Linked DNA regions of Homo sapiens: regions 1, 3 and 4 are each linked to region 2. The links come from fine-mapping of genetic effects on gene expression. A gene starts in region 2. Each other region holds a variant in brackets. All regions are shown on one strand. Distances are from middle to middle.

Region 1 (8,110 bases), 39 kb before region 2:
GTGTCTAGCTAAAGGTTTGTAAATGCACCAATCAGTGCTCTGTGTCTAGCTAATCTAGTGGGGACTTGGAGAACTTTTGTGTCTAGCTAGAGGATTGTAAATGCACCAATCAGCACTCTGTGTCTAGCTCAGGGATTGTAAATGCACCAGTCAGCACCCTGTCAAGACAGACCAAACAGCTCTCTGTAAAATGGACCAATCAGCTCTCTGTAAAATGCACCAATTAGCAAGATGTGGGTGGGGCCAGATAAGGGAATAAAAGCAGGCTGCCCGAGCCAGCAGTGGCAACCCACTTGGGTCCCCTTCCACACTGTAGAAGTTTTGTTCTTTCACTCTTTGCAATAAATCTTGCTGCTGCTCACTCTTTGGGTCCGCACTGCCTTTATGAGCTGTAACACTCACCGCGAAGGTCTGCAGCTTCACTCCTGAGGCCAGCGAGACCACGAATCCACCAGGAGGAATGAACAACTCCAGATGGGAGGAATGAGCAACTCCAGACGCACCGCCTTAAGAGCTGTAACACTCACCGTGAAGGTCTGCAGCTTCACTCCTGAAGCCAGCGAAACCACAAACCCATCAGAAAGAAGAAACTCCGAACATGTCTGAACATCAGAAGGAACAAACTCCGGACACACCATCTTTAAGAACTGTAACACTCACCGCAAGGGTCCGCGGCTTCATTCTTGAAGTCAGTGAGACCAAGAACCCACCAATTTCGGACACAAAATGAAGGAAAAAATGTTAAGTGCAGCCAAAGAGAAAGGTTGGGTAACCCACAAAGGGAAGCCCATCAGACTAACAGCGGATCTCTTGGCAGAAACTGTACAAGCCAGAAGAGAGTGGGGGCCAATATTCAACATTCTTAAAAGCATTTTCAACCCAGAATTTCATATCCAGCCAAACTAAGCTTCGTAAACAAAAGAGAAATAAAATTATTTACAGACAAGCAAATGCTGAGAGACTTTACTACCACCAGGCCTGCCTTACAAGAGCTCCTGAAGGAAGCACTAAACACAGAAAGGAATAACTGGTACCAGTCACTGCAAAAACATACCAAATTGTAAAGACCATAGATGCTATGAAGAAACTGTTCATAACAGTTCTTCAAAATAACCAGCTAGCATCATAATTACCAGATCAAATTCACACATAACAAGATTAACCTTAAATGTAAATGGACTAAATGTCCCAATTAAGACACACAGACTGGCAAATTGGATAAAGAGGCAAGACTCATTGGTGTGCTGTATTCAGGAGACCCATCTCACATGCAAAGACACACATAGGCTCAAAATAAAGGGATGAAGGAATATTTACCAAGTAAACGGAAAGAAAAAAAAAAGCAGGGGTTGCAATTCTAGTCTCTGATAAAAAAGACTTTAAACCAACAAAGATCAAAAGAGACAAAGATGGGCATTACATAATGGTAAAGGGATTAATGCAACAGGAAGAACTAACTATCCTAATTATATATGCACCCAATACAGGAGCACCCAGATTCATAAAGCAAGTTCTTAGAGACCTACAAAGACTCTTAGACTTCCACACAATAATAGTGGGAGACTTTAACACCCCACTGTCAATATTAGACAGATCAATGAGACAGAAAATTAACAAGGATATTCAGGACTTGAACTCAGCTCTTGGCCAAGCAGACCTGATAGACATCTATACAACTCTCCACCCGAAATCAACAGAATATACATTCTTGTCAGCACCACATCATATTTATTCTAAAATCGACTATGTAATTGTAAGTAAAACACGCCTCAGCAAATGCAAAAGAACAGAAATCATAGCAAACAGTCTCTCAGACCACAGTGCAATCAAATTAGAACTCAGGAGTAAGAAACTCTCTCAAAACCGCACAACTACATGGAAACTGAAAACCTGCTCCTGAACGACTACTGGGTAAATAAAAAAATTAAGGCAGAAAGAAAGAAGTTATTTGAAGCCAATGAAAACAAAGACACAAAGTACCAGAATCTCTGGGACACATTTAAAGCAGTGTGTAGAGGGAAATTTATAGCACTAAATGCCCACAAGAGAAAGCAGGAAAGATCTAAAATCGACACCCTAAAATCACATTAAAAGAACTAGAGAAGCAAGAGCAAACAAATTAAAAAGCTATCAGGAGACAAGAAATAACTAAGATCAGAGCAGAACTGAAGGAGATAGAGAATGAAAAACCCTTCAAACAATCAATGAATCCCGGAGGTGGTTTTTTGAAATGATCAACAAAATAGATAGACTACTAGCCACACTAATAAAGAAAAAAAGAGAGAAGAATCAAATAGACACAAAAAAATGATAAAGGGGTTATCACTACTGATCCCACAGAAATACAAACTACAATCAGAGAATACTGTAAACACCTCTATACAAATAAACTAGAAAATCTAGAAGAAATGGATAAATTCCTGGACACTACACTCTCCCAAGTCTAGACCAGGAAGAAGTCAGATCCCTGGATAGACCAACAACAAGTTCTGAAATTGAGGCAGTAATTAATAGCCTACCGACCAAAAAAAAGTCCGGGACCAGGTGGATTCACAGCAGAATTCTACCAGAGGTACAAAAAGGAGCTGATACCATTGCCTCTGAAATTATTCCAAACAATAGAAAAAGGGGGAATCCTCCCTAACTCATTTTTATGAGGCCAGCATCATGCTAATACCAAAACACGGCAGAGACACAACAAAAAAAGAAAACTTCAGGCCAATATCCCTGATGAACATCAATGTGAAAATCCTCGATAAAATATTGGCAAACTGAATCCAGCAGCATATCAAAAAGCTTATCCGCCACGATCAAGTCAGCTTCATACCTGGGACGCAAGGCTGGTTCAACATACACAAATCAATAAACATAATCCATCTCATAAACAGAAACAATGACAAAAACCATGATTATCTCAATAGATACAGAAAAGGCCTTTGATAAAATTTAACACCCCTTCATGATAAAATCTCTTAATAAACTAGGTATTGATGGAATGTATCTCAAAATAATAAGAGCTATCTATGACAAACCCACAGCCAATATCATATTGAATGGGCAAAACCTGGAAGCATTCCCTTTGAAAACTGGCACAAGACAGGGATGCCGTCTCTCACCACTCATATTCAACATAGTGTTGGAAGTTCTCGCTAGGGCAATCAGGCAACAGAAAGAAATAAAGGGTACTCACATAGGAAAAGAGGAAGTCAAATTGTCTCTGTTTGCAGATGACATGATTGTATATTTAGAAAACCCCATCATCTCA[A/G]CCCAAAATCTCCTAAAGCTGATAAGCAACTTCAGCAAAGTCTCAGGACACAAAATCAATGCGCAAAAATCACAAGCATTCCTATACGCCAATAATAGACAGCGAAATCATGAGTGAAACTCATTCACAATTGCTATACAGAATTAAATACCTTGGAATACAACTTACAAGGGATGTGAAGGACCTATTCAAGGAGAACTACAAACCACTGTTCAAGGAAATAAAACAGGACACAATCAAATGGAAAAATATTCCATGCTTCTGGATAGGAAGAACCAATATCGTGAAAATGGCCATACTGCCCAAAGTAATTTATGCATTCAATGCTATCCCCATCAAGCTACCATTGACTTTCTTCATAGAATTAGAAAAAACTACTTTAAATTTCATATGGAACCAAAATAGAGCCTGCATAGCCAAGACAATCCTAAGCAAAAAGAACAAAGCTGGAGGCATCATGCTACCTGACTTCAAACTATACTACAAGGCTACAGTAACAAAAACAGCATGGTACTGGTACCAAAACAGATATATAGATCAATGGACAGAACAAAGGCCTCAGAAATAACACCACACATCTACAACCATCTGATCTTTGACAAACTTGACAAAAACAAGCAACAGGGAAAGGATTCCCTATTTAATAAATGGTGTTGGGAAAACTGGCTAGCCATATGCAGAAAACTGAAACTGGACCCCTTCCTTACACCTTATACAAAAATTAACTCAACATGGATTAAAGATTTAAACGTAAGACCTAAAACCATAAAATTCCTAGAAGAAAACCTAGGCAATACCATTCAGGACACAGGCATAGACAAAGACTTCATGACTAAAACACCAAAAGCAATGGCTACAAAAGCCAAAATAGACAAATGGGATCTAATTAAATTAAAGAGCTTCTGCACAGCAAAATAAACTATCATCAGAGTGAACAGGCAATCTACAAAATTGGAGAAAATTTTTGCAATCTATCCATCTGACAAAGGGCTAATATCTAGAATCTACAAAGAACTTAAACAAATTTACAAGAAAAAAAAACAACCCCATCAAAAAGTGACTGAAGGATATGAACACACACTTCTCAAAAGAAGACATTTATGTAGCCAATAAACATATGAAAAAAAAAAGCTCATCATCACTGGTCATTAGAGAAATGCAAATCAAAACCATAATGAGATACCATCTCACGCCAGTTAGAAAGGCGATCATTAAAAAGTCAGGAAACAACAGATGCTGGAGAGGATATGGAGAAATAGGAATGCTTTTACACTGTTGGTGGGAGTGTAAATTAGTTCAACCATTGTGGAAGACTATGTGGTGATTCCTCAAGGATCTAGAACCAGGAATACCATTTGACTCAGCAATCCCATTACTGGGTATATACCCAAAGCATTATAAATCATTCTACCATAAAGACACATGCACACATATGCTTATTGCAGTACTATTCACAAAAGCAAAGACTTGGAACCAACCCAAATGCCCATCAATGATAGTCTGGATAAAGAAAATGTGGCACATATACACCATGGAATAAAATACAGCCATAAAAAAGAATGAGTTCATGTCCTTTGCAGGGACATGGATGAAGCTGGAAACCATCATTCTCAGCAAACTAACACAGGAACAGAAAACCAAACACCGCATGTTCTCACTCATAAGTGGGAGTTGAACAATGAGAACACATGGCCACAGGGAGGGGAACATCACACACTGGGGCCTGATGGAGGCAGGGGACTAGGGGAGGGATAGCATTAGGAGAAATACCTAATGTAGATGATGGGTTGATGGGTGCAGCAAACCACCATGGCACGTGTATACCTATGTAACAAACCTGCACATTCTGCACATGTACACCAGAACTTAAAGTATAATAATAATAAAAACGAAATAGTTCATTCAAGTAACTTTAAATGATAGTGTTCAGAGTGTACAGTCCTAATGATGCAATCTAAAGACAAAACAAGCTACAAAGAAATATTTTATTTTATTTTATTATTATTATACTTTAAGTTTTAGGGTACATGTGCACAATGTGCACGTTAGTTACATATGTATACATGTGCCATGCTGGTGTGCTGCACCCATTAACTCGTCATTTAGCATTAGGTATATCTCCTAAAGCTATCCCTCCCCCCTCCCCCCACCCCACAACAGTCCCCAGAGTGTGATGTTCCTCTTCCTGTGTCCATGTGTTCTCACTGTTCAATTCCCACCTATGAGTGAGAACATGTGGCGTTTGGTTTTTTGTCCTTGCGATAGTTTACTGAGAATGATGATTTCCAATTTCATCCATGTCCCTACAAAGGACATGAACTCATCATTTTTTATGGCTGCACAGTATTCCATGGTGTATATGTGCCACATTTTCTTAATCCAGTCTATCACTGATGGACATTTGGGTTGGTTCCAAGTCTTTGCTATTGTGAATAGTGCCGCCATAAACATACGTGTGCATGTGTCTTTATAGCAGCATGATTTATAGTCCTTTGGGTATATACCCAGTAATGGGGTGGCTGGGCCAAATGGTATTTCTAGTTCTAGATCCCTGAGGAATCGCCACACTGACTTCCACAATGGTTGAACTAGTTTACAGTCCCACCAACAGTGTAAAAGTGTTCCTATTTCTCCACATCCTCTCCAGCACCTGTTGTTTCCTGACTTTTTAATGATTGCCATTCTAACTGGTGTGAGATGGTATCTCATTGTGGTTTTGATTTGCATTTCTCTGATGGCCAGTGATGGTGAGCATTTTTTCATGTGTTTTTTGGCTGCATAAATGTCTTCTTTTGAGAAGTGTCTTAAACTGTTTTTATATATACTGGAAATTTGCTGTGAGTAGATTCTGATGCTCTTACCATATACACATGAAAAGGGTTACTGTGAGTGAGGACGGATATGTTAATTTGCCTAACTGTAATAAATATTTCACTGTGTATATCAAAATATCATGTTGTGTACCTTAAAATATACAATAAAATAATACAATATATATACACAATAAAAATAATTTGTTCATTTACAATATTTATATATTTTTTGAACTTATTACAGGTAGATTACATAATAAAGCAAATAATTATATTAATGCCTTTGGAAAGCAAGATTTCCAGCATTAAAAAAGACACAAATAATCAAACAAATCAAACAAAAAACTGTATCATTATACTATATCAGATATATTAGTATGAACTCATGACTTACTTTTCTTTAAAAAAAACAACAACAATGACAGATTCTATCAGGGCGCAGTGGCTCCTGCCTGTAATCCCAGAACTTTGAGAGGCTGAGGCGGGAGGACTGGTTGAAGCCTGGAGTTCGAGACAAGCCCTGGGCAATGTAGTGAGACCCACTCTCTACAAAAAATTTTAAAAAATTAGCCAGACCTGGTGGTACACATCTGTAGTGCCAGCTACTCAGAAGGCTGATGTGGGAGAATCGCTTGAGTCCAGGAGTTCAAGGCTGTAGCAAGCTATGATAGCACCTCTGAACTCTAGCCTGGGAGACAGCATGAGATCCTGTCTCTATAAAATTTAAAAACCTTAAAAAGTAGATCTGAAGCTCTGTCCACTGAAAAACCTAGAAGAAATGACATCCCAGAAATAATGAACACTGCTAATTTTTAAATATCCTCAATGAAGCAGTCTTTTTGGAGAAATGGATGATTCCAAGTATGTGGCAGAGTTGACAAGTTAGGCCTGATATATCTTGCTGTGCCAAGGAAATAGGAAGATTACTGGGATCATATCAGAAAGATACAGTAACCAAATTGAAGGGGCTACCTCTGACCTCAGATAAAAAAATTTGAGCATTAAAAAATACTAATTCAATAGATCAAATTATACCAAGTATATATAACTCCATGAGTTCATAATGATTTTTTAAAAATAAAAATTTATTAGTCTCCACTGGATATTGTTAATGAACCCATTCATTACCCTTATAATTAATTCATTACTCTTATTAATAGAAAGTGTCAAACACTTATCTCACCTTTCCTGTATGAGATATATTCCAAGATAACCCAATAACTGATGATAGAAAGTTTTTGTAGAACTCAGCTAATAAATATGGAAGGAATAATAGAAAACTCAGCATTTTACTACCTATTCCATTGGATTTAGGTAATTGTCATTAATGGGGAACTTTAAAATAGAGGGATCGGGATGACACTGCTTAAATTTAGTGGTCAATGTTAGTATCAATAAAAGTGGTCAACCAGTCATTATACACCTCTTGATGTGATTCAACAAGAAGTATACTGCACCCACCACCTGAAACCTATTCTTGTCATCCAGACCCCCGAAAACTGAACCTAAACCTAGTCATCTCTAGGTCTAAACTAATAGTTTAAGGAAAATATAGGAAATGGGGGCAGGAGTAAAGCAAAAAACAGTATCATGAGAAAGCAGCCAGTCAAATAAAGAATATGGGATATTTTATGGGATATAGGTTCTGGATTCATTAACAAATAAATAGTATAAAAAAGCAGCAAAGAGAGGACTAATAATAGAATTTTTTAAATTTGAGAGACAAAACAGCAAAATGCAATGCACTGACCTTGCTGAGATCCTGATTCAAGCAAACCAAGCCTGTGATATTTTCTTAGAAATCTGAATAGGAATTGTAAATGATAATAAGAAATTCTTAATTTGTTAAGCATAAAGGTAGTTTTTAAAAAGACCTTCTCAGCTAAAAGTGATGCATGCCGAAGTATTTAATGATGAGATTACATGACTTCTAAACTTGCTTCTTAATATTCCAGCAAGAAAAAATGTGGATGGATGGGTGAAGGTTAATAGAGGAATCCATTTGGCAAAACACTTATACTTACTGAAGCTA
Region 2 (8,110 bases):
GGCTATCTGATCCCTAGCCCCTGCATTAACTAAAAGTTAGAAGTTCCAGTCTCCTGTCTTATATATATTCTCTGGGTTACCTTGAGCATGTCACATCCTTCTCTGATGCAGTTTCCTCATCTACATAACAAGGCAATTTGATTAGAACAGTATTTTTCAAATTATGGCTCAATAATGCATTAGTGGATCTCTAGCGGACTTCTTACCACAGATTTTAGCTTTCAAACTTTAAACACATAATTACATTATTTCTAAGGACCTGCCTACATCTAAAGTTCTCAGATAAGGAAAATAAACTTCACAGGTCATTAAAAAAAAAACAGATTTTTCATTTATTTTAGATTTTGGAGGAATGAATATTTCTTAATGGCGTTAGAAGAGATCTAATCCTTTTTTTTTTAACAAATGAAATATACAGATCTTTCATAATCATCCATTTATCAAAAATGTTGACTTTTATGTACCATTTTAGAGATAAGCAAACTGAACTAAACTCTCGGGCAAATGAATAACTGTAATGGGAAAAAAGAGATGAGTGGGACCCTATGGCATTAAAAAGTTGAGAGACTTATAATAAATTTCAGTGTATGAACTTTATTTGGATCATTAAATCTACTGTAAAAATGAAACAATCAAGACTATTGAACACTGACTGGATATTAAATAATATCAAGTAAGTACTGTTTATTTTAGGTGTGATAATGATATTTAATAATATTAATTAATTCTGTTAAGTTTTTAGGTGTGATAATGGTATTTTACAATATTAAGGAATTAATATTAAGGCTGTTGTTATGGCAATGGCATTACAGTTATATGTATAAATATATATTTATTTTAGAGGTCAGTGTTAAAATAGTTACAGATAAAATGACATCTGAAATTGTTTTAACATAATTACAGGGGTGAAAGGAATGGGTGGGCATATATATGAAGTAAGACTGATGAAGAACTGATTGTTTCAACTGGTTGATGGGTATATCAGAATTCATTAAACTATTTTCTCTACTTTTGCATACTTAAATTTCTTTATAATAGAAGTTTTTTAAAAAGAAGGACAAATAGGCCGGGCATGGTGGCTCATGCCTGTAAATCCCAGCACTTTGAGAGGCCGAGGCGGGCGGATCGCCTGAGGTTGGGAGTTCGAGACCAGCCTGACCAACATGGAGAAAACCCGTCTCTACTAAAAACACAAAATTAGCCAGGCATGGCGGCACATGTCTGCAATCCCAGCTACTCAGGAAGGCTGAGGCAGGCGAAACGCTTGAACCTGGGAAGCAGAGGTTGCGGTGAGCCGAGACCGTGCCATTGCACTCCAGCCTGGGCAACAAGAGCAAAACTCCGTCTCAAAAAAAAAAAAAAAGAAAAGAAAAGAAAGAAAAAGAAAAGAAAACTAAGGTAGAAAAAGAAAGAAAACTTTTTGCCTCAGATTTTTATTAGCCAGACCCCACACCAAATTTGAGAATTTTGAATTTTTATTCTACATCTTTCAATTATGCTAGAGCCCCTTTCTTTTCTATTTTCTAAGCTTTGCTCTAACTAGAAGCCAAAGATCCTCCTGAGCTCAAAATAAAAAGCCATTTACAATAAAGATTATAAGAGAGAAGAAACCATACCACAAAGAGTAGGAAGTTGCCCTCAGAAGCACCAGCTAACCAAAGTTATCAAAACCCTTCTTTCTGGGTCATGAGTTATAGGCTTTTCTCTTCCTGTTTCATATGAGTGTGCATATCACCAACACTGTGAGGTTATTATGCCTTTTGCCAGATTTTGTAATTTGAAGATGACTAATTTCAGTATGACAAATATGGGATTCCTGGAGAGTGGGGGCGGGGGAAGTGGGGACTAGACTGAAGACTCCATAATTCTTCTCTGTAGTCTTTTACTGTGGAGATGAAATAATATCAATATTAACATGAAAGGAGTAAAGTGAGGTCTCTTGGGAGTCTCTGAGGGTTGCATGGATTTCATTCGGAGGCAGAATCTGCTCCTGGTTCCTCTTTATCTATCATGCCTAATGCCTACGTAATGAGGGTTTAGGTAAAACCTTCTGGGTGTATACAAGCTGCTAGCCTCTGAGGCACCACTGCAGACAGGAAATATTTGCTCACTTGAGCCAACCTGTCCTCGATGCCATTTCTCTGCCAGCAGGAAGAAAGATCCACACCAAGTCTCAAGGGTAGTTACTGGGCTGATGACAATTTGAAGAAACTGTTGAAGTGTAGCCATCAACAGCCTGTGGAGACGTAGCCAACTGGATAATCTGCACAAATATTAGCTTCCAGGCTACTTGGTACTTTCTGTATTTCCAGACAAGATTTACCTAACATTTAGCCTGCTCAGGAGATGCAAAACAATATAAGTTTCTGTTAAATCTGGGTTACTTCATTGGACAGACACCAGAACCAATAAACTTCTAAAATAGGAGAGCACCTTGTTGCTTAGTTTTGGTGTCAGGTGTTCCCGACAGTGACATTGAAAAAGTTATTTTGTTTTTCTTAGTTTTCTCATCTGAAAAAGAAGTGGATAACACCTATTTCAGAGGGTTGCTGCAGACACTAAAATGATTAACATATGTAAAAATGTCTAGTTTTTGCTTGATTTACTAAATAAGTATTAGTTTCCTTTTGAATTATTTGCCATGAAAGCCTTTCGGTGTCCCCTCCATCCCCCCCAAAAAAAAGAAAGAGAAAAAGAAAAAAGGCCCTAGCACTACTAGAACTCAAGCAGAAATTCACATTCTCCCAGCACTCACGTAGGATAAGAAATAGAATTCTACCCCAAGTCCAAAAAAGAGTCTGGCCCAATATCAAAATAGACTTTACCTCCAAAGCAGTTTGATATTTATTAAACACTACCTTTTTCTCTTCATTAACATCTCTTGCCTCCTGGTAATTTGCCCTTTACTTTTCCTCTGTTTCTCCAGCTTTGAAATCACACGCCATTTTTTTTAAGACAATGTAACAATGTGCAAGATATTTTTTGTTGTTGTTTTTTGCACTTTTGACATACCCTATCCCCAAACACACCCCAAACCAGGACACTGTGGAATTAATACAGTTTGGAAATTGGGTATAGTTTAGTGACTCAGTGTTAGTTAAGATGCTGGCAACAGATGTTGGCAAAGGCTATGGAATGAGTCCCAAGAATGACAAACCTTACATTACTCCAAAGGTTTGAAATCCAGGATTTCTCTGGTTAATATGGTTAATAGTTCCACTGCTGGTTTTAATTGTCTTAGAGTGGAAGGAGGTGTCATATTTTCAGGCCCTAGTAATCTCTTCCTTCAGAATTCTTCTGAATAAAAAGCTTAGCAACAAAATCACTAGAGTTAGAGTGCTATGCCTTCTTGATTTAATACTAAAACATGGAACAAATGAAACCACTCTGGCCTTTTTCCAACCTCTACAGATCCCTCATTCTTATACTTCTAGTCCGTCTTTTCTTCCTCATAACACCCCAATTCCCTTTTTGCTCTTTCTTTTCCTCCTCAAATCATATCTCTGCATTGTCTCGCTATGTGGCCACCCTTGATCTCCAGTGACCTCCAAAGGGCAAAACGCCCATAACAAGACAACAACTGCAGTAACAATCCAGTCCAAAAGTATTTGCCAAGAGTTTATTCCGCGGTTAGCACCAAACTCTCCATCTATTTTGCCACTGCAAACAGTGAACCCATAGTTCCCCAAAACAATCATAGTTCCTCATGCTTCACTCTTGGCAGGGCTGAGGACAGGAAAGAAGTGAAAATAAAATCTTCCATTACTACCCTCAGTCTAGCCAGAAGTATACCCCACCACACAAGGAGATGGCAGCCAAGTCTTCACTCCCTCAGAGTTTCTCCTCAGGCTCCTCACTCACCTAACTCTTCCATTGTCCTACATCCAAGATGCTCTTGTCTCACAGGCCGTGAGGAACAGCTTTGGCATGTGCTGAAGAAGAGGACCGCAAAGGAACTGGATGAGACAGCATAAGGCAGCCTCTATAAACCTTTTTGGTTCCTGTATTTGCTTAGCACTTCCTCTCTTTTGATTTGGTGAGCTTTTTTTTTTTTTTCATAGGTTACACAGTTTTAAAAATGTGACTGACATAGAAAGGTAGATAGTAAGATTTGCATTATGGCAGTGCATTGGCCAGGGTGATAAAGATTCAAAATTAATTTTGCAAAATTTGAGGACCTACTCTGTGCCAGGATTCATCTTGGATTCATGGGAATGGCAGACTTATACTTGCGTTTTTTCCAAGTGTAGGTACCCCACTCTGAGCATCTTTCTTTTTTCTTTTTTTTTTTTCTGTGAAGCTGGGAGACACAGAGGCATAGTCTCCTTCTTAAAATTTGCATCAGAGTTGACCAGCATCCATTTCATTTTGTTGTCTTATTTATTCAGAAATTATGGTTATCTGCTTTCCTGCATGGAACGTAAATCCTTAAAAGTAGGGCAGAAGTGGATTCATGCTTGGATTCTCAGGGCCTGGTTTACTCAGTGGTCCCAAAAGCAAACATCTATAGGGTGGTCACAAAGAAGGAAGCCAGGTTTGACACCAGATGTTAAACTGTGTGCATCTCAATTAAGCATAATCCCTGCCTAGATACACTGCCTTATAGCAATTTCTTTGGAAAGTAACACTGAGGTTAACTCTTCACCTTTTTTACCACTGTGATTTATTCACCTTGAATTAAACATTTACAAAAGGCCTACTATAAAAAAGCAATACGTAAGGAACTATAATTATGGCCCTGTGAAATAGATTTTTTCCCCCTTTTTACCAATGGTGAAATAGGTTCATGTAATAGCAACTTGCTAAGATAATTAATTGGTAGCTTTGCTACTTACTATAATTGCAAAGTCTGGGATCTTTCCTCTACAACACCGTAGCCTTCTTTACTTTTTTTAAGACAAGCTCTCTGTCACCCAGGCTGGCGTGCAAAGGTACTATCATAGTTCAGTGTAACCTCCAACTCGAACTCCTGAACTCAAGCGATTTGCCCTTCTCAGCTTCTGGAGTAGCTGGGACCAGAGGTGCATCCCATCACGCCACCAGGTTAGCTTAAAAGCTTTATTTTTATTTTTTATGTAGAGGGTGGTCTCCCTATGTTGCCCAGGCTGGTCTGGAAGTTCTGGGCTCAAGGGATCCTCCCACTTTGGCATCCAAAAGCGCTGGGATTCCGGGGGTGAGCTACCACATCCAGCCCACAGTGGCTTTTTTTTTTTAGGGAATAATTCATTCTCCATTCCACTGTCTGTACATTTTTTTTTGAAAGGAGATTCCTCCTCTGTATTACTTTGAGCATCCATTGGATGTCAGCACTGTTCCTTCCAAAAGTCTGCTCACTACAAACTCAATCTTAAAAAATTTCCATTGACACTATGCCAATCGATTATTACAACTGAAAATGACATTAGCCCTATGAAAATGGAAAATACTCAGTAGAGAATATAAAACATTTGTCTAATATGAAGTGGTATCTGAGTCAAAGTACTGGAAGGAAAAATGTACTTCAGCACTTGTCTACAGTTTAACTGAATGATTAATGTGAAATTTAAAATTGGATCCCCAGATCTTGTTTCCAGCTTCTTTCTTTTGGGACTTTTAGCCCTGGATGCCTTATTTTCCAGGGGTAAAGGATGTTCTTGCAAATCGTTCCTTGATTGTAATGGATGAAAAGAAAAAAGAAATGGGAGAGGCCCACTGCATCACCAACTGCAACGGAAATTCCCTTTGATGAATCAGGAAGACAAATTAATGTCATACGCTAGCGTGCAGAAAAGTAACCTCTGATAAAGTTGCTATTGTATAAACCGCAGAAGCAGATGGCTTCCGGCCGCAGAGCTTAAGAGACCCTTCAGCTTCTCGGTGTAGGTCACCAGTCATGTCACGCTCACAACCCTTTCGCCTCCCTCTAGGTCAGGCACCGCATCCAAGTTAAGCAACCGACGCCGGCTCCTTGGTGTCCCAACAAGGTCTAGTAGAAAAGCAACTTTATAATTCGTTTCACAGATTTGATTAAGAGCCAACTGAGTAGTGGGCCTTGTGCTAGGGCTCCGAGGGCCCAAGGACCCCATGGAACCAGATTTAGTCGCTGACCTCTAGGAGCTCACAGGTGAGTGACTCACACACCGGAAGACGAGATCAATAATGTAGACATGAACGCTGGCTAGCCAGTCCCAGAGGAGGTGTCATCTGACCAAACCAAGGCAAGTCTGGGCAGTTACGCAGACACCCCGAGAAAGGTACGCCAACGCCCAGATAAAAAGTAAGAAAAAGTAGGAAAAACCCTCCCATCAGACCAGCAATTGGCTCGACGCTTGAGCCCGGATGTACGGCACGCGTCGCGACCTAACCCGGAAACACTGCCTCCCGAAAAAAAGGTAAACTCTAGACTGCGGAAAGTAAACTACCTTTCCCGTCGTGACTCAGTTAGAACCTCCCGGCATCCTCTCCACCTCTGGTTTCCCATCTATTTTTCCTAAAGCCTAGGCGAAATAAGACTTCATCTCCCAGAATGCCCTTGGTTAAGTTAACGGTGCGCATGCGCCAAGAGGCGGGCCCTCGTTGCCCCCACAACCCCGCCTCCGTTTTGCCGCCGCCATTTTTTCAGAGACTTTCATCCGGCAACCGACGGGGCTTTTTTTCTTAAAGGAGAAGCGACAGCTCAAAATACTACCCCCTTCTCCGCGCAAGATCTGGCGGCGCTGGGGACAGAAAGGCCAAAGACAGGAAAGTGGGGTAGGGTGGAGGCGGAAGAACGCCCAGGCTACTTCTGCGGCCTAAAGAAGAATAGAAAGAGCCCTTGTGGTATCAGTGGCTCCTCAGGGAGGCAGGTGCGCGCGCAGCCAGTCTAGGGTTTGCGTGAGGCGGGGAAAGAGGTGCGATTTCTTCTCACCCGCCTCCCTCGCGAGACCTGCCCCTCGCACTGCCCCTAGCGCGCGTTGAAGTCTGGAGGGGGGAAAAAGGTCACTTTGGGATTGTCGCGAGACACAGCCGTTTAACGGTGAGAACGGGTGCGCGGGGAAGGAAACCTCGCGCGCTCCCCTTTTAGCCGTTTCCTGATTGGCTGAAGGAAGGGGTGGGGGAGGGAACCTGGGGCGCCGCTGCGTGTAAGACTGCGAGGGGCGGGGTGAGGAGGCTTGTCCTCTTTTCCGATTGGCCCGCTGAGCGTCTGTGGCGCGCGCGCGCGCGCCGCCAGCGGTAGCGGACCTTGAGTGGCAGGGGGTGGGGGGGGCGCCCTCGGAGCCGGGCGGAGGGGAGGGGGGAAAGAGGAGCGCAGGGTGAGAGTGAGCCGCAGGCTTCGGGAGGCGAGGGGGCGGGGGGAGCAGCGCCGAGGCCGCCGCCTCCGCCTCCGCCGCCTAGGACTAGGGGGTGGGGGACGGACAAGCCCCGATGCCGGGGGAGACGGAAGAGCCGAGACCCCCGGAGCAGCAGGACCAGGAAGGGGGAGAGGCGGCCAAGGCGGCTCCGGAGGAGCCCCAACAACGGCCCCCTGAGGCGGTCGCGGCGGCGCCTGCAGGGACCACTAGCAGCCGCGTGCTGAGGGGAGGTCGGGACCGAGGCCGGGCCGCTGCGGCCGCCGCCGCCGCAGCTGTGTCCCGCCGGAGGAAGGCCGAGTATCCCCGCCGGCGGAGGAGCAGCCCCAGCGCCAGGCCTCCCGACGTCCCCGGGCAGCAGCCCCAGGCCGCGAAGTCCCCGTCTCCAGTTCAGGGCAAGAAGAGTCCGCGACTCCTGTGAGTAACAGTCTTTCAGGCGGTGGGAAAGACCCCCCTCTGTCCGTACGCAACCCTCTCGGCTCCCGTAGCGCCTACTCCACGTGACATCCTGCCTGGTCTGCCCCCTGCCGGCTCCGCACGCCAGATGTCACACCGTTTCCCCGGGAGCCTTCGTGCCTCCTCTCTGCGCCACCCTCATCTCGCTCCTGTACCTTCGCTTGTCGGGCCGTTTCCCCACTCCCCGAAATCATCTTTTGATACACCCCTGCACTCGCTAGTGATCCACCTCCTCCCTGACACCCGCAGGCTCATCCCTCTTTCTGGCATCCGCACCCCCTTTGTCACCCTATCCCTTTCCTTTAGGCGGCTCTCCAGTATTACATCACATGCCCTTTAGGGAATAC
Region 3 (8,110 bases), 120 kb before region 2:
AATTGGTGTTCATTAGGAGGAAGAGAATTCTAAAAGCTTGGAAAACATATTTGGGGGAATAATTGAGGAAAAATTCCCTGGCCTTGCTAGAGACCTAGACATCCAAATACAAGAAACACAGAGAACACCTGGGAAATTCATCTCAAAAAGATCATCAGCTAGGTACATTGTCATCAGGTTATCCAAAGTTAAGATGAAGGAAAGAATCTGAAGAGCTGTGAGACAGAAACATCAGGTAACGTATAAAGGAAAACCCATCAGATTAACAGCAAATTTCTCAGCAGAAACCCTACAAGCTAGAAGGGATTGGGGCCCTGTCTTCAGCCTCCTCAAACACAATTATCAGCCAAGAATTTTGTATCCAGTGAAACTAAGCATCATATATGAAGGAAAGATACAGTCTTTTTCAAACAAATGATGAGAGAATTCACTATTACCAAACCACCACTAAAAGAACCGCCAAAAGGAGATCTAAATCTTGAAACAAATCCTGGAAACACATGAAAATAGCATAAATCACACAGAACCTATAAAACAAAAATACAAGTGAAAAAGCAAAAACAAAAAACAAAGCACACAGGCAACAAAGAGCACGATTAATGCAATGATACCTCACATTTCAATACTAACATTGAACAGAACCACAGAATGGATAAGAACTCCCTGATCAACTATCTGCTGCCTTCAGGAGACCAAGCTAACACATAAGGACTCACATAAACTTACATAACTCACATAAACTTAAAGTAAAGGGGTGGAAAAAGGCATTTCATGCAAATGGACACCAAAAGAATCAATATTGTGAAAATGACCATTCTGCCAAAAAAATCTACAAATTCAATGCAATCCCATAAAAATACCACCATCATTCTTCACAGAATTAGAAAAAAAAAATTCTAAAATTCATATGGATCCAAAACAGTGCCTGCATAACCAAAGCAAGACTAAGCAAAAAGAACAAATCTGGAGGCATACCTGATTTCAAACTATACTATAAGGCCATAGTCAAAAAACAGCATGGTACTGGTATAAAAACAGGCACATAGACCAATGGAACAGAATAGAGAACCCAGAAATAAACCCAAATACTTACAGCCAACTAATTTTCAACAAAGCAAACAAAAACATAAAGTGGGGAAAGGACACTCTTTTCAACAAGTGGTGTTGGGATAACTGGCTAGCCACATGTATGAGAATGAAACTGGATCCTCATCTCTCACCTTATACAAAATTCAACTCAAGATGGATTAAAGACTTAAGCCTAATACCTGAAACTTTTTACTTAGGAATATACCTAACCAAGGAGGTGAAAGACCTCTACAAGGAAAACTACAAATCACTGCCGAAGGAAATTATAGACAACACAAACAAATGAAAACACATCCCACACTCATGGATAGGAAGAATCATATTGTGAAAATGATCATACTGCCAAAAGCAATCTAAAATCAATGCAATTTCCAATAAAATACCACCACCATTCTTCACAGAATTAGGAAAAGCAATTCTAAAATTCATATGGAACCAAAAAAGAGCCTGCATAACCAAAGCAAGACTAAGCAAAAAGAACAAATCTGGAGACATCACATTACCTGATTTCAAACTATACTGTAAGACCATAGTCACCAAAACAGCATGGTACTGGCATAAAAATAAGCACATTGACCACCTTATACAAAAATCAGCCCAAGATGGATTAAGAATTTAAATCTAAGACCTGAAACTATAAAAATTCTAGAAGATAACATTGGAAAAACCCTCCTGGACATTGGCTTAGGCAAGGATTTCATGGCCAAGAACCCAAAAGCGAATGCAGTAAAAACAAAGATAAATAGCTGGGAACTAATTAAAGAGCTTTTGCCTGGCAAAAGGAATAGTAAGCAGAGTAAACAGACAACCCACAGAGCGGGAGAAAATCTTCACAATCTATACATCTGACAAACGACTAACATCTAGAATCTACAACAAATTCAAACAAATCAGTAAGAAAAAAACAAACAATCCCATGAAAAAGCGGGCTAAGGAAGTAAATAGACAATTCTCAAAAATAGATATACAAATGGCCAACAGATGAAAACATGCTCAACATCAATAATAATCAGAGAAATGCAAATCAAAACCACAATGCGACTCCACCTTACTCCTGCGAGAATGGCAATAATCAAAAATAAAGAAACAGTAGGTGTTAATGTGGATGTGGTTTGGTGATCAGGGAACACTTCTACACTGCTGGTGTGAATGTAAACTAGTACAGCCACTATGGAAAACTGTGTGGAGATTCCTTAAAGAACTAAAAGTAGAATTACCATTTGATTTAGCAATCCCACTACTGGGTATCTACCCAGAGGAAAAGGAGTCATCATTCAAAAAAGATACTTGCACACGCACGTTTATTACAGCACAATTCACAATTGCAAAATTGTGAAACCAACCCAAATGTGACTGAGTTTGAGACCAGATTGGGCAACATAGCAAGACCCCTTCTGTACACCAATCAACAAGTGGATGAAGTAACTGTAGTATAATCCCAGCACTTTGGGAGGCTGAGAAGGGAGGATCACCTAAGGTCAGGAGTTCAAAACAAGCCTGGCCAACATGGTGAAACCCCATCTTTACTAAAAATGCAAAAATTAGCCAGATGTGCTGCCTGTAATCCCAGCTACTCAGGAGGCTGAGGCCAGAGAATCACTTAAAGCTGGGAGGCAGAGGTTGCAGTGAACTGATATTGCACCATTACACTCCAGCCTGGGCAACAAGAGTGGAATACCCTCTGAAAAAAAAAGAAAAAGAAACTGTAGTATATACATATATATATGCAATGGAATACTACCAAACCATAAAAAGGAATGCATGAAAAGCATTTGCAGAGACTTGGATGAGATTGGAGACTATTATTCTAAGTGAAGTAACTCAGGAATGGAAAACCAAACATTGTATGTTCTCACTGATATATGGGAGCTAAGCTATGAGCACATAAAGGTGTAAGAAGCCATCCCATTACTGGGTATATACCCAAAGGCTTATAAAACATGCTGCTATAAAGACACATGCATACGTATGTTTATTGTGGCACTATTCACAATAGCAAAGACTTGGAACCAACCCAAATGTCCAACAATGATAGATTGGATTAAGAAAATGTGGCACATATACACCACGGAATACTATGCAGCCATAAAAAATGATGAGTTCATGTCCTTTGTAGGGACATGGATGAAGCTGGAAACCATCATTCTCAGCAAACGATCACAAGGACAAAAAACCAAACACTGCATGTTCTCACTCATAGGTGGGAATTGAACAATAAGAATGCTTGGACACAGTCAGGGGAACATCACACACCGGGGCCTGTTGTGGGGTGGGGGGAGTGGGGAGGGATAGCATTAGGAGATTTACCTAATGTTAAATGACGAGTTAATGGGTGCAGCACACCAACATGGCACATGTATACATATGTAACAAACCTGTACATTGTGCACATGTACCCTAAAACTTAAAGTATATATTAAAAAAAAAAGGTAGATACTAGTATGAGTTCCGTTTTATAGATATGGAAATAGAGGCTTCTGTGAGTAATATAACTTGCCTAAGGTGCTTAGCCTGGAAGACACATAATAAAGACAACAATAATAATAATAGCTATGCTTTATTCTACACTAACTGTGTGCCATAGACATGCTAAATATTTTACTTGTATTAAATCATGGGCTTCTCATTTTTTCAACTGAGGAAACTGTGTCTGAGAAAGATGAAATAACTTGCTGTGGCTATTCAATCATTATAGAACAGAGCAGAAATATAACTCCAGGTCTCTCTGAGTCACAGCTTTTGAGGTTAACCACGGCAATTTTACCATATAGCAGCCCCTTAATACATTTTGTTAAATCAAATTGATGCTCTAGAGAATTTTTCATTCAAACACATTAGATTTCTTCTGGAAAACATAGGTTTTACATCCTATGCACAGTGGATTTGATTTGCTTTGTAGTTTTTTCATGGAGAAGGACCTAAAAGAGAGAACAGAGAGGAAGACTCGAGGGTTGTAGTACCCAACCTCAGTCATGCAGCCCTTATAATGAAGGCCAGCTTGCATCTCCTTGATGTGGGAACCAGAATCCACAACATCCCTTGCAGGCTCTCGAGCTGCTACACTCCATAGCCACATTTATGAAGATGGATGAAAAGCACCTCTTTTACAGGCTTCACTGCCTAAGCAGTGGTAGTAATATAAACACCCAGTAA[G/A]AGGGGGTTGATTAAGTATGATCTGTCAACTTGATGCACCATCACGACTCTAGGAAAACAGTAATTATAAAGACTAGGGAGAAACATGCAAGAATGCTTCAAATGTTTACCGTATGATGTTAACTAAAAAAAGTACAGTGTAATGTGATTGCACCTATTTAAACTATAAATATATATGAAAATGTAAACCAAAAGTAAATAAAACAGAAATTAAACATTTGCATTAAGATGAAAAAAAAAAGAATGATACAATCAACTTTGGGGACTTGTGGGGAAGAGTGGGAGAGAAGCAAGGGATAAAAGGCTAAAAATACGGTGCAGCGTATACTGCTCGTTGATGGGTGCACCAAAATCTCACAAATCACCACTAAAGAACTTACTCATGGTAACCAAATGCCACCTGTACCCCTATAACTTATGGAAAACAAATAAATAAATAAATACACAAGCCTATGAAATTTATGAGACAGCATCAAGATAGTTAACTTTAGCATTAAAAACCTTAATGAATAAGAAGAAAGGGAAAGGGAACAGAAACCTAAAGTTAAAATGGCAGAAAACTTATCAAATCTAGGGAAAGATATAAATATCCAAGCATAGAAAAGCCAATGGTCTTCAATTAGATTCAACCCAAAGAAAACCACAAGAAGACATACTATAAGCAAATAGTCAAAAAATAAAGAAAAGAGAACTTTGAAAGCAGCAAAGAAAAAAATATATATACTCACATGGAAGGGAACCCCCCCAAAAGCTATCAGTGTATTTATCAGAATAAACTGCAGGCTAGGAGAGAGCAGATAATATATTCAAAGTAGTGAAAGAACAAAAACCTGCCAATGAAGAATATTCTGCCTGGCAAAGTTGTCCTTTAGAAATGAAGGAGATAACTTTCCCAAACAAACAAAAATTAAGGGAGTTCATAAATACTAGACCTGTCTTACATAAAATGATAAAGGGAGTTCTTCAAGCTGAAATAAAAGGATCCTAATTAGTAGCATAAAAGCATATGAAAGTAAAAACTCATGGTAAAAGTAAGTACAACATCATATTGTAATGATGATGTGGACATCAATTATATCTCTAGTATAAAAGTTAAGACACAAAACTATATCAATAACTATAGCTACGATAATTTATAAAAAGATACACAATATAAAAAGAAATAAATTATGACATAAACCTAAAATGTGGAGGGGGGGGGATAAAAGTGTAGTATTTTTTTTTTTTTTTTTTTTTTTTTTTGAGACGGAGTCTCGCTCTGTCACCCAGGCCGGACTGCGGACTGCAGTGGCGCAATCTCGGCTCACTGCAAGCTCCGCTTCCCGGGTTCACGCCATTCTCCTGCCTCAGCCTCCCGAGTAGCTGGGACTACAGGCGCCCGCCACCGCGCCCGGCTAATTTTTTGTATTTTTAGTAGAGACGGGGTTTCACCTTGTTAGCCAGGATGGTCTCGATCTCCTGACCTCATGATCCACCCGCCTCGGCCTCCCAAAGTGCTGGGATTACAGGCGTGAGCCACCGCGCCCGGCCAAAAGTGTAGTATTTTTATATGCAATCAAAGTTAAGTTGTTATCTGCTTAAAATAAACTGATATCATTGTTGGACATTTGGGTTGGTTCCAAGTCTTTGCTATTGTGAATAGTGCCGCAATAAACATACGTGTGCATGTGTCTTTATAGCAGCATGATTTATAGTCCTTCGGGTATATACCCAGTAATGGGATGGCTGGGTCAAATGGTATTTCAAGTTCTAGATCCCTGAGGAATTGCCACACTGACTTCCACAATGGTTGAACTAGTTTACAGTCCCACCAACAGTGTAAAAGTGTTCCTATTTCTCCACATCCTCTCCAGCACCTGTTGTTTCCTGACTTTTTAATGATTGCCATTCTAAATGGTGTGAGATGGTATCTCATTGTGGTTTTGATTTGCATTTCTCTGATGGCCAGTGATGGTGAGCATTTTTTCACGTGTTATCTGGCTGCATAAATGTCTTCTTTTGAGAAGTGTCTGTTCATATCCTTTGCCCACTTTTTGATGGGGTTGTTGGTTTTTTCTTGTAAATTTGTTTGAGTTCATTGTAGATTCTGGATATTAGCCCTTTGTCAGATGAGTAGGTTGTGAAAATTTTCTCCCATTTTGTAGGTTGCCTGTTCACTCTGATGGTAGTTTCTTTTGCTGTGCAGAAGCTCTTTAGTTTAATTAGATCCCATTTATCAATTTTGGCTTTTGTTGCCATTGCTTTTGGTGTTTTAGACATGAAGTCCTTGCCCATGTCTATGTCTTGAATGGTAATGCCTAGGTTTTCTTCTAGGGTTTTTATGGTTTTAGGTCTAACGTTTAAGTCTTGAATCCATCTTGAATTAATTTTTGTATAAGGTGTAAGGAAGGGATCCAGTTTTGGCTTTCTACATATGGCTAGCCAGTTTTCCCAGCACCATTTATTAAATAGGGAATCATTTCCCCATTGCTTGTTTTGGGGACTGTTGTGGGGTGGGGGGAGGGGGGAGGGATAGCATTAGGAGATATACCTAATGCTAAATGACGAGTTAATGGGTGCAGCACACCAGCATGGCACATGTATACATATGTAACTAACCTGCACATTGTGCACATGTACCCTAAAACTTAAAGTATAATAATAATAAAATTAAAACAATAAACTGATATAACTATAAAGTATTTTCAGTAAGCCTCATGGTAATCAAAATCAAACATCTATCATGAATATACAAAACATGAAAAGAAATCAAAGCATACCACTACAGAAAATCAACAAATTGTAAAGAAAAATGGCAATGGAGGAATAAAGGGATCTACAAAACAGCCAGAACATAATTAGCAAAATGACAATAGTAAGTTCTTACTTATTAATAACCATTTTAAATGTAAATAAGTTCTTCTATCAAAGAATTACTAAATGGATAAAAAACAAAAAGACCCAACTAAATGCTGCCAACAGAAACTCACTTAAGCTTTAAGGACATATATAAATTAAGAGCGAAGGGATGAAAAAAGATTTTCCATGCAAATGGAAACCATAAGAGAGAAGAAGTAGCTATACTTATATCACACAAAATAGACTTTAAGTCAAAAACTACAAAAAGGAATGAAGAAGGTTATTATAAAATGATAAAGGGAACAATCCATCAAGAGGCTACTACAATTATAAACATACATGCACCCAACATCAGAACACCGTAATACGTGAAGCAAATAATAGGTGTTTAGGGAAAAACATACAGCAATTGATAATACAACGGACTTCAATACCTCACTTTCAACAATGCATAGATCATTCAGGAATAAAATCAATAAGAAAACATTGGATTGAATTAGGGTTTAGAGTGAATAAAACTAACAGACCTAAAAGGTAATTTCATCCCTGCAGACCTACAGAGCATTTCATCCCACAGCAGCATATGTGGAACATTCTCTATAACAGATTATATATTGAGCCAAAAAACGAGTCTTAAAAATTTAAGAGGATTGCAGTTTTATCAAGTGTCTTTTCCAACTGCAATGGTAATTAGAAAACAATAGGAGAAATTTCAGAAAACTGACAAGTATGTAAAAATCAAGAACACATGCTTGAACAACCAATGGGTCAAACATGAAATCCAAGGGAAATTTTAAAATATCTTGACACAAACAAAAATGAACACACAACATACCAAACATATAGGATGGATGAAAAACCGCTATAAGAGGAAAGTTTTAGTGATAAATGCCACCCATGAAGAAAAGAGAAATATATGAAATAAACAACCTAAGTATACACTTTAGTAAACTAGAAAAAAAAATGAAAGTAAATACAAAGCTAGTAGAAATAAGGAAATAACAAAAATCAAGTCAGACACAATGGTTCA
Region 4 (8,110 bases), 220 kb before region 2:
TGATTACTACAGTTTTTGTTGTAACTTTTGAAATTGTGGTGTGAGAGGACTCCAACTCTGTTCTCTTTTTAAAATATTATTCTGGGCTTTTAAATTTCCTTATGAATTTTAGGATAAGTTTACCAATTTCTGCAAATAAGCCAGCTGGGATTTGAGAGGAAGTGTATTTAATCTGAATATCAATTAGGGAATGTGGCCAGCTGTACAATGTTGGTTCATAATCAAGTAATGTTTTCCTTTATTTAGATTTTATTGAACATCTTTCAACTAGGTTTTATAGTTTTAAGAATATAAGCATTGCAGTTCTTTTTGTAATCGTTTTTACTGTGCATCTTATTTTTGATGGTTCTGTAAATGGAATTTTCTTCATTTTATTTTTAGATTACCTATTGCTAGTATATAGAAATACCACTTATTCTGGTATGTTGTTATTGTATCCCTGACACTTTACTGAATTGATTTATTAGTTCTAATAATTTTTAGGGGATTACTTATGATCTTCTGTTTTTTGAGACGGAGTCTCGCTCTGTCACCCAGGCTGGAGTCCAACGGCACGATCTCAGCTCACTGCAACCTCCGCCTCCTGGGTTCAAGCGATTCTCCTGCCTCAGCCTCCCAAGTAGCTGGAACTACAGGCATCCACCACCATGTCTGGCTAATTTTTTTGTATTTTTCGTTGAGACAGGGTTTCATCACGTTGTCTCGCCTGGTTTTGAACTCCTGACCTCAAGTGATCCACCTGCCTTGGCCTCTCAAAGTGCTGGGATTACAGGCATGAGCCACTGGGCCAGGTCATGATTTTATATTTTAAATAGCAAACAGAGATTCTTTTATTTCTTTCTCTCAGTTCAAGATGTCTTTGATAGTCATAGGCTAAGTTTAAAAAAAAAAGAATTATCTCTGCCTTTTAATTCTAATATATTATTATTCTAATATAGTTATTTACCATTTATAAATTGTCATATGAACAAGCTGTACCAAATACCTAAAATTATTAATGCCTGAAATATTAGTTTATTAAGAAACAGTAATGACTCATAGTTGGCTAAAATATGACAAGAGACAACACATATTTCATTAAACTCCATGAGAAATTGTCATCGTATTTTTCTAACTCGTGGATACTTAGAACTGTTTCTCAACTAAAGACAAAAATAATATTAGATGAAATTTTACATTCTATATACCATATAGCATTTTAACATTTGAGTTATTGTATAAAGTAGATCTAAGTGAGATAAAATAACATTGTGATGATTTTGCATCATTAAAAGACTGAATCTAGAGAATATTTTGCCTTCTCAACAACCTTCATGAATGCATTCTTCACGTCTTTGTTCCTCAGGGTATAGACTATAGGACTGAGCATGGGGATGATCATAGTGTAGAACACAGATGCAATTTTGTCTGTGTCCATGGAATGACTGGAACTTGGTCGTATGTACATGATGATGACAGTTATATAAAATAAGAAAATGGCAATGAGGTGAGAACCACAGGTAGATAAAGGCTTCTGGTATCCCTTACCTGTGTGCCTCTTAAGAATGGTGATCAATATGAACAGATAGGAAATCAAGGTAACAAGAAGTGCAAAAAAGACATTAAAACTTGATATAAGAACAAGAATCAACTCACTAATGTGTTTCTCAGAGCAGGTCAGAGTAATGACTGCTGGTTTGTCACAGAAAAAGTGATGAATCACATTGGACATGCAGAAAGAGAGGCGAAATGTATCTCCAATTTGGATAGAAGCATTCAGAAAACCAATGACATAACAGCCTATAGCCAGACAAGCACACACACGTGTTGTCATGGTGGTGGTATAATGTAGGGGGTTACACACTGCTGCGTAGCGGTCATAGGCCATTGAGGACAAGAGGTAATTTTCCACAGTGGCAAAGACTGCACAAAAGAACATCTGAGCAGCACAGGCACTGTAGGAGATGGCTTTGTCTTCTATAAGCAACCCAGTTAAAACCTTTGGAGTGACAGCTGAGGAGTAACCAATGCCTGCAAGAGACAGGTTACTGAGAAAAAAGTACATGGGAGTGTGGAGATGAGAGTCCAGCAGGATTAATATGATCATCCCCAGGTTCCCAGTCAGAGTGATGAGGTAGATGAGGGTAAACATGATAAAGAGGGGAACCTGTAGTTCTGGGGCATTGGTTAGACCAAGCAGGATGAATTCACTCACCTCTGTATTATTCTCCATGGATGTTATTTTAGAATCACAAGATACTCTGTAGCAAGGAGAGATAAAAAAGAAAAACCCTGTGATGAACAAAACAGAGTTGCACAAAACTGAAATGTATGTGTTATTTTATTATAGCAATGATTTGTTTTCTATATTTCCTAGATCAAAATTATGGATATGAAAACACAATTTAGTGGATAACTTATCTATACAGTAATAGACTTTTGAAGAAAAAGGGTCTTCGTGGATCATCTTTCCAGCTTCTTAATTTTGTGTCTGAGTAAATGGAGTCATAGGAAGGGAATAATGAGTTGTCCAATGTCACATGCCTGAAGTGAATCTATCTCCCAAATAATATGTTTTTTGAATCTAACATCTTAAACACACTTATAGTTGTCTCATGCCAGATGCTTTATATGTACATCCTCATAGAATTCTCTCATTAATCCTATTATTTAATTAGTTATTATTGCCAATTTATACATGAAGTATCTTGGTAGAAAAAAAGAGTTTGAATAATTTATTCAAGATTACACAAGCACCAGTAGATAGAACCAAGCTTTAGACACAATCAGGGTGGTTCCCAACCTAAATTAAAAGAATTAAAATTCTTTTAATGAATTTGAATTATTTTAAATGTTAATCTATTTATATGTACTCATTCTATCTATTATACCAAGCATAACATATGAAGTTGCATAGTAGAGCAATGCACAAATAAATGCATACTAGATGAAGTGGAATAAATGCAGCATTAATGTCATGTGCAACCAACAAAGCCAATTCTGCAGAGAAGATATAGCATTGGGTATAAAATCTAGGACTCTAAGAAGAGGTAGATTTGTATTAACTCATAAGCCCTAACATTTACTACTTGGGAGACACTGGTCTTAATCTAACTTCCTTGAATCTCATTTTATCCATTAGTCAAATGAAGATGATATTAGGACTTATGTCAAGAGATTATTTTGAGAGTTAAATGAGATAATGCTCAGCTGTTGGCAAAATGTGGGCACTCAGCACAGTCCTGATGAGTGCTAGCTATAATATTATTATTAGGATGGAATGGTGGTGCATATGTTGGTGTAGAACACATAGAGGTGACACACAGGGCTGAAGGTGTGGGTGGGTTTTCAAGTTGGCAGTTTTACTCTGTCTGATCTGTATTTTCTTACACACTATGTCCAGTCTTTTGTTTCCTTCAGCATTTCTCACTCTATCCATTCTTTGCCAGGTGAATGACTGTGTCAGCCATCTAGCATGAGAACCCAGGGATCTTCAAGTCCTGTTGTGTTTAATTTCTCCCTTTCAAACTACATTTT[A/C]CCTTGTGTTGAAACAATCCCCTTTTATCTTAGACACATTCTTCCTGTCATTACTCTCAACACTTAGCAGGATATCAGATATTGAGGGTTGGAGGTTCGTAGTCTTGGGGGCTGACTGTAGGCTGCAGATGTGTTTATGCACAATCTTTTTATTTGAATTTGAATCTGTCAGAAGGACATTCATTTCCTCATAACCACTATTGATTGTCTATCATTTTTCTCCTGCCCCCAGTACACATCAGTTGACACTTCTAGAATTCAAATTATTTGTTTGCCAAAAAACTACCCACATAATAATATAAGCTACAATTTTTATTGTTTTTCTTTAAAAATTTACTATGTTCTATGACAACTGAAAGGTTCTCACTGTACCTACCTGGATAATCTAGGATAATCCTACCATCTCAACATGTTAATTTAATCACTGTGAAGTTTGTAAAAAAATCACATAAGGCCACATGTTTATGGGTTTCAGAAGTTAAGATATGACCACCTTTGGGGAACATTATTAAGGCTGCCATAATGAGTATGAATATTATATATCATAGGTAAATTATCTCTAGAATCAGAAATGGTTGAGACATCTTCACAGATCACATAGCCAACTTCCTAATTGTATATATGAATCACTAGAGGAGCAGAGAAAGTATTAAATTCTCAAGTTCACATATCTGGAATACATTGATTTTATAAATCAGATCTTCTAAAGTTACTAGCAGCTTAGCCTTTGTACTTATGAACCAGTTTGTTTCATGAATGATAGAGAGATGATAGATTGACAGACATAGATATCAGAGCATGGAGAGAGAGAGAGAGAGAGTATTTATACAGACAGATATATAACCCCATTTGCTGTTAAATATTGGGAGATTAGAGGAGTTTTGTACCTTCCTCATATTCTACACTTAGTAAGATAAATTCAAGATTCAAACCCATGTCTAACCTATTCCAATTTCTGTGCCTTTAATCACTGCAATGTCAGATTTTCTAGATTAGCAAGTAATGAAAAAGTGAGATTGTGAGGAAATGATAGTAAAAATGGAATAGGGATCTTGGTAGTGTCATAATAATCTTTCTGAAGTCTATTGAAGAGTTGTTGCACCCTGTTTGGGGGAGCTATTCCTTCAGCGACAAACCAACACATAATAAACCAGATACATTTACCACCTACTCAATCAGAGCATCATCCAGCCTAGGGTTTTACTACCATCTTAGGGAGAGCAGCACGGCATTTCATAAATATCACTGTATCTGCTGGTTAAGTTTTCTTTTTTTTTTTTAAACAATGAATGCTAGACCCACTTCCATGTTTTAGAAAAAATGTTCAAACAAGTAGATCTGAGCTCAAAAACTCATACAAGATGTAGCTGCCACACTGCTTTTGCATCAATTACATATTTCACCAAAAGTATATATTGAATATAGAGGCTTACCTTGCTCTTTGAAAAGAAGAAAAAGGCAGTTCTCAATTGTGAGTCTGAAATCAGAAATTCATTCTTGGGAGAATGCCTAAATAACATTGGAGAAATTCTCTATCATGTACTTTTCAGAAATGTTCAAGTTTTTTGAGGCATAAAGAGGTGGAGAAAGAATTATTAACATGGAGTGCTAACTCAAACATGTCATTTTTCTATGTTGTATCATTTTTCTGTGTTGTGAAAGTCTGAGTTCAGGTTTTGCATGTACCATGGGTTTTTCTGTGAACTTGAAAAACTTATTTATTTTCTGCTGAGCTCAGTTTCCTCATTTGTGGAATAGAAATGAGAAAATGTTTTCTCCCACAACTTCACACAATTGTATCTATACAGAGAAAATGACAGTGGACCTATACAGACCTTAGTAAGTTGTTATCCCTTCATCATGAACCAATACAATTTTTATCTTGGGAAGTTTTTTTCTGCCTTTGGTTGGAGAATCACTGCAATATTCTCAGTTTCAGGAAAGACCAGATTGTGCACTAAAAGTATTAGCTTTCATTTGGATGAATGAAGATTAAAGTGGCTCTGGTTAGAGTCTTATCCATTTTAAATAACGTCATGTGGAGCCATACTATGATTTCAGATCTTACTGACTGGCAGCCAGGAGAAAAGTGTACATGTATGGAACTCTCTGGGAAACAGCGTCCCTATGAGGGCAATAGCTTTCCTTTATCTCACTTATCTAGGGAAGAGGCAATTACACAGCATCCAGTGATAGAGTTTGTGTTGAGTCACATACATGTTTATTTGTGGTAATTGCTGTCATGCCTTTTTTCTCCCCCAATTTTATTAAGTTGTTATTACATACATGAGCAGTGTGTTGATCTATTTATATTTACTGTATTATTGATGTGTAATACATGTCAAATATTTATTTTGTTTTCTTTTTATTCATTTTTCTACTTTCTATTTTATAACTTGTTATATCTGATAGCAACTGAATTTGTAGATTGATAAACATAATCCCTGTTTTACTTTCTTGTGTTTACAATCAACTGATAAATATAACATAGGTGTCAGAGAAATGAAGATTAGAATATTCCTTAATATTTATATTCAATTCAAAAATTTGATTCAGATAAATAGGTGGATGGCCTTCTTTTCTATCTCAAATTACTATTTCCTAGCAAATATCGTTAGTGTTCTATCCATCCCCTCTTCACTTGTGTTGTCCATGTGCAGGCCAATACTTATTGTGAAATAAAGAATGTGAAATTTGCGTTTTGCAGACTTAGGGCTTAGAATTTGCTGTAAAAGTAGGTTCAGCCCATGTGTGGAACATTTTAATTTCTGTGGTGTGGAACATTTTAATTTCTGTGGTATCAGCAATCAGTACATGATAGATAGAAGTAGAGTGATAAGAACCCAATTCCTACTTTTTCAGGTGGTATAACTTTGAGACATATTTGATAGTTTTCCAGTGGTTCCTGATAGACTAAGGCCCAGTTTTCTTCAGGCATAACCTACTCACTAAAGAAACCCTTTATTCCCCTTCCTGTGTCCAAGTGTTCTCATTGTTCAATTCCCACCTATGAGTGAGAACATGCAGTGTTTGGATTTTTGTCCTTGTGATAGTTTGCTGAGAATGATGGTTTCCAGCTTCATCCATGTCCCTGCAAAGGACATGAACTCATCATTTTTTATGGCTGCATTTTATGGAATACTAAATTATTCCATGGTGTATATGTGCCACATTTTCTTAATCCAGTCTATCATTGATGGACATTTGGGTTGGTTCCAAGTCTTTGCTATTGTGAATAGTGCCGCAATAAACATACGTGTGCATGTGTCTTTATAGCAGCATGATTTATTCTCCTGTGCATATATACCCAGTAATGGGATGGCTGGGTCAAATGCTATTTCTAGTTCTAGATCCCTGAGAAATCACCACACTGACTTCCACAATAGTTGAACTAGTTTACAGTCCCACCAACTGTGTAAAAGTGTTCCTATTTCTCCACATCCTCTCCAGCACCTGTTGTTTCCTGACTTTTTAAATGATCGCCATTCTAACTTGTGTGAGATGGTATCTCATTGTGGTTTTGATTTGCATTTCTCTGATGGCCAGTGATGATGAGCATTTTTTGATGTGTCTTTTGGCTGCATAGGGGCCTGTTGTGGGGGTGGGGGTAGGGATAGCATTAGGAGATATACCTAATGTAAATGACGAGTTAATATATTCAAGATATATAACATTTCCATCACCACAAGGATCCCTCATGCTGACCTTTTATAGCCATGACCCCATTCCTTCTTAAATACTGGAAAAAAATCTGTCCTCCATTTTATAATTTTGTCATTTCACAAATGTTCTATGTATGTGGAATTATGCCTTGGATTTTTTGTGACCGTTTGAGACTGGCTGTTTTTACTCAGCATATTCTTCCCAATATTCATCCAGGTTTTTGAATGTATCAACAGTTTATTCCTTTTTATTGAGAGTAGTATTCAATGTGATGGATGTACTACAAGTTGTTAACCTTTCACCCAAGGAAGGATATCTGAATGGTTTCCAGCATGGTTTCTAATTTTTGACTACTATAAATAAAGGTGCTATAAACATTTACACACAGTTATTTTTGTGAACATAAATAATCATGTTTCTGGGAAAATGCCCAGGAGTTCATTTGCTGGATCTTATGGCAGTTATGTATAAAAAACAAACAAACAAACTAACAAAAACAAACAAAAAAACACTAAACTATTTTCCATAGTCTATCTTATCTATTTTTGGTTTCTGTTCCAGAATTTCTAATTACTTTCTATAATTTCTGTTTCTTTATTAATAGTTCACTATTTCTTGAAATATCTTTTTCCTAGCTTCCTTTAGTTTCTTGTTCAAGATTTCATTTAGCTCTTTGAGCGTATTTAGGATACATGTCTTAAAAGTGCAGAAAAATATAGAATCCTGATGAATGAAGTTTTAATAATTGAAATTAGTGTATAGAAATATTATATTCATGAATTGAGAGACTTTATGTTGACTGCTCTGAAGATTCCTTGCAATCACAATTTAAATCCAAGCAGCCTTTTTAAAAAAATAAATATGAATACACTGATTATAAATTATATGGAATGGCAAAGCTAATAAAGATAATAAAGTTGAAGCATGCACA

The links. PIP is the estimated chance that this variant, and not a neighbour inherited with it, causes the effect.
Region 1: its variant is the best candidate, but not a certain one, in a credible set for the expression of LPXN in whole blood (TOPMed, PIP 0.69).
Region 3: its variant is the best candidate, but not a certain one, in a credible set for the expression of LPXN in whole blood (INTERVAL, PIP 0.85).
Region 4: its variant is the best candidate, but not a certain one, in a credible set for the expression of LPXN in whole blood (TOPMed, PIP 0.72).

Annotation. Positions count from the first base shown.
Region 1 is chr11:58,532,517-58,540,626 of GRCh38, forward strand. All of the region lies in intron 7 of LPXN (leupaxin), which reads right to left. Among named protein-coding and RNA genes, the nearest start is that of OR5B21, 28 kb to the left of the region's middle. The variant A/G (reference allele first, on the strand shown) is at 3,266.
Region 2 is chr11:58,571,899-58,580,008 of GRCh38, forward strand. It overlaps LPXN (leupaxin), which reads right to left and starts at 3,958. Exons shown (of 9, transcript NM_004811.3): 1 at 3,862-3,958. The coding sequence starts at 3,874. ZFP91 (ZFP91 zinc finger protein, atypical E3 ubiquitin ligase) reads left to right here and starts at 7,165. Exons shown (of 11, transcript NM_053023.5): 1 at 7,165-7,724. The coding sequence starts at 7,384. ZFP91-CNTF (ZFP91-CNTF readthrough (NMD candidate)) reads left to right here and starts at 7,216. Exons shown (of 13, transcript NR_024091.1): 1 at 7,216-7,724. RefSeq lists enhancers at 3,831-3,890, 3,901-3,950, 5,639-5,688, 5,919-5,998, 6,019-6,538 and 3 more and a silencer at 7,219-7,638.
Region 3 is chr11:58,447,690-58,455,799 of GRCh38, forward strand. No RefSeq gene overlaps it. Among named protein-coding and RNA genes, the nearest start is that of OR5B12, 9.5 kb to the left of the region's middle. The variant G/A (reference allele first, on the strand shown) is at 4,243.
Region 4 is chr11:58,356,858-58,364,967 of GRCh38, forward strand. OR5B17 (olfactory receptor family 5 subfamily B member 17) reads right to left here and starts at 2,212. Exons shown (of 1, transcript NM_001005489.2): 1 at 1,267-2,212. The coding sequence starts at 2,212. The coding sequence ends at 1,268. The variant A/C (reference allele first, on the strand shown) is at 3,517.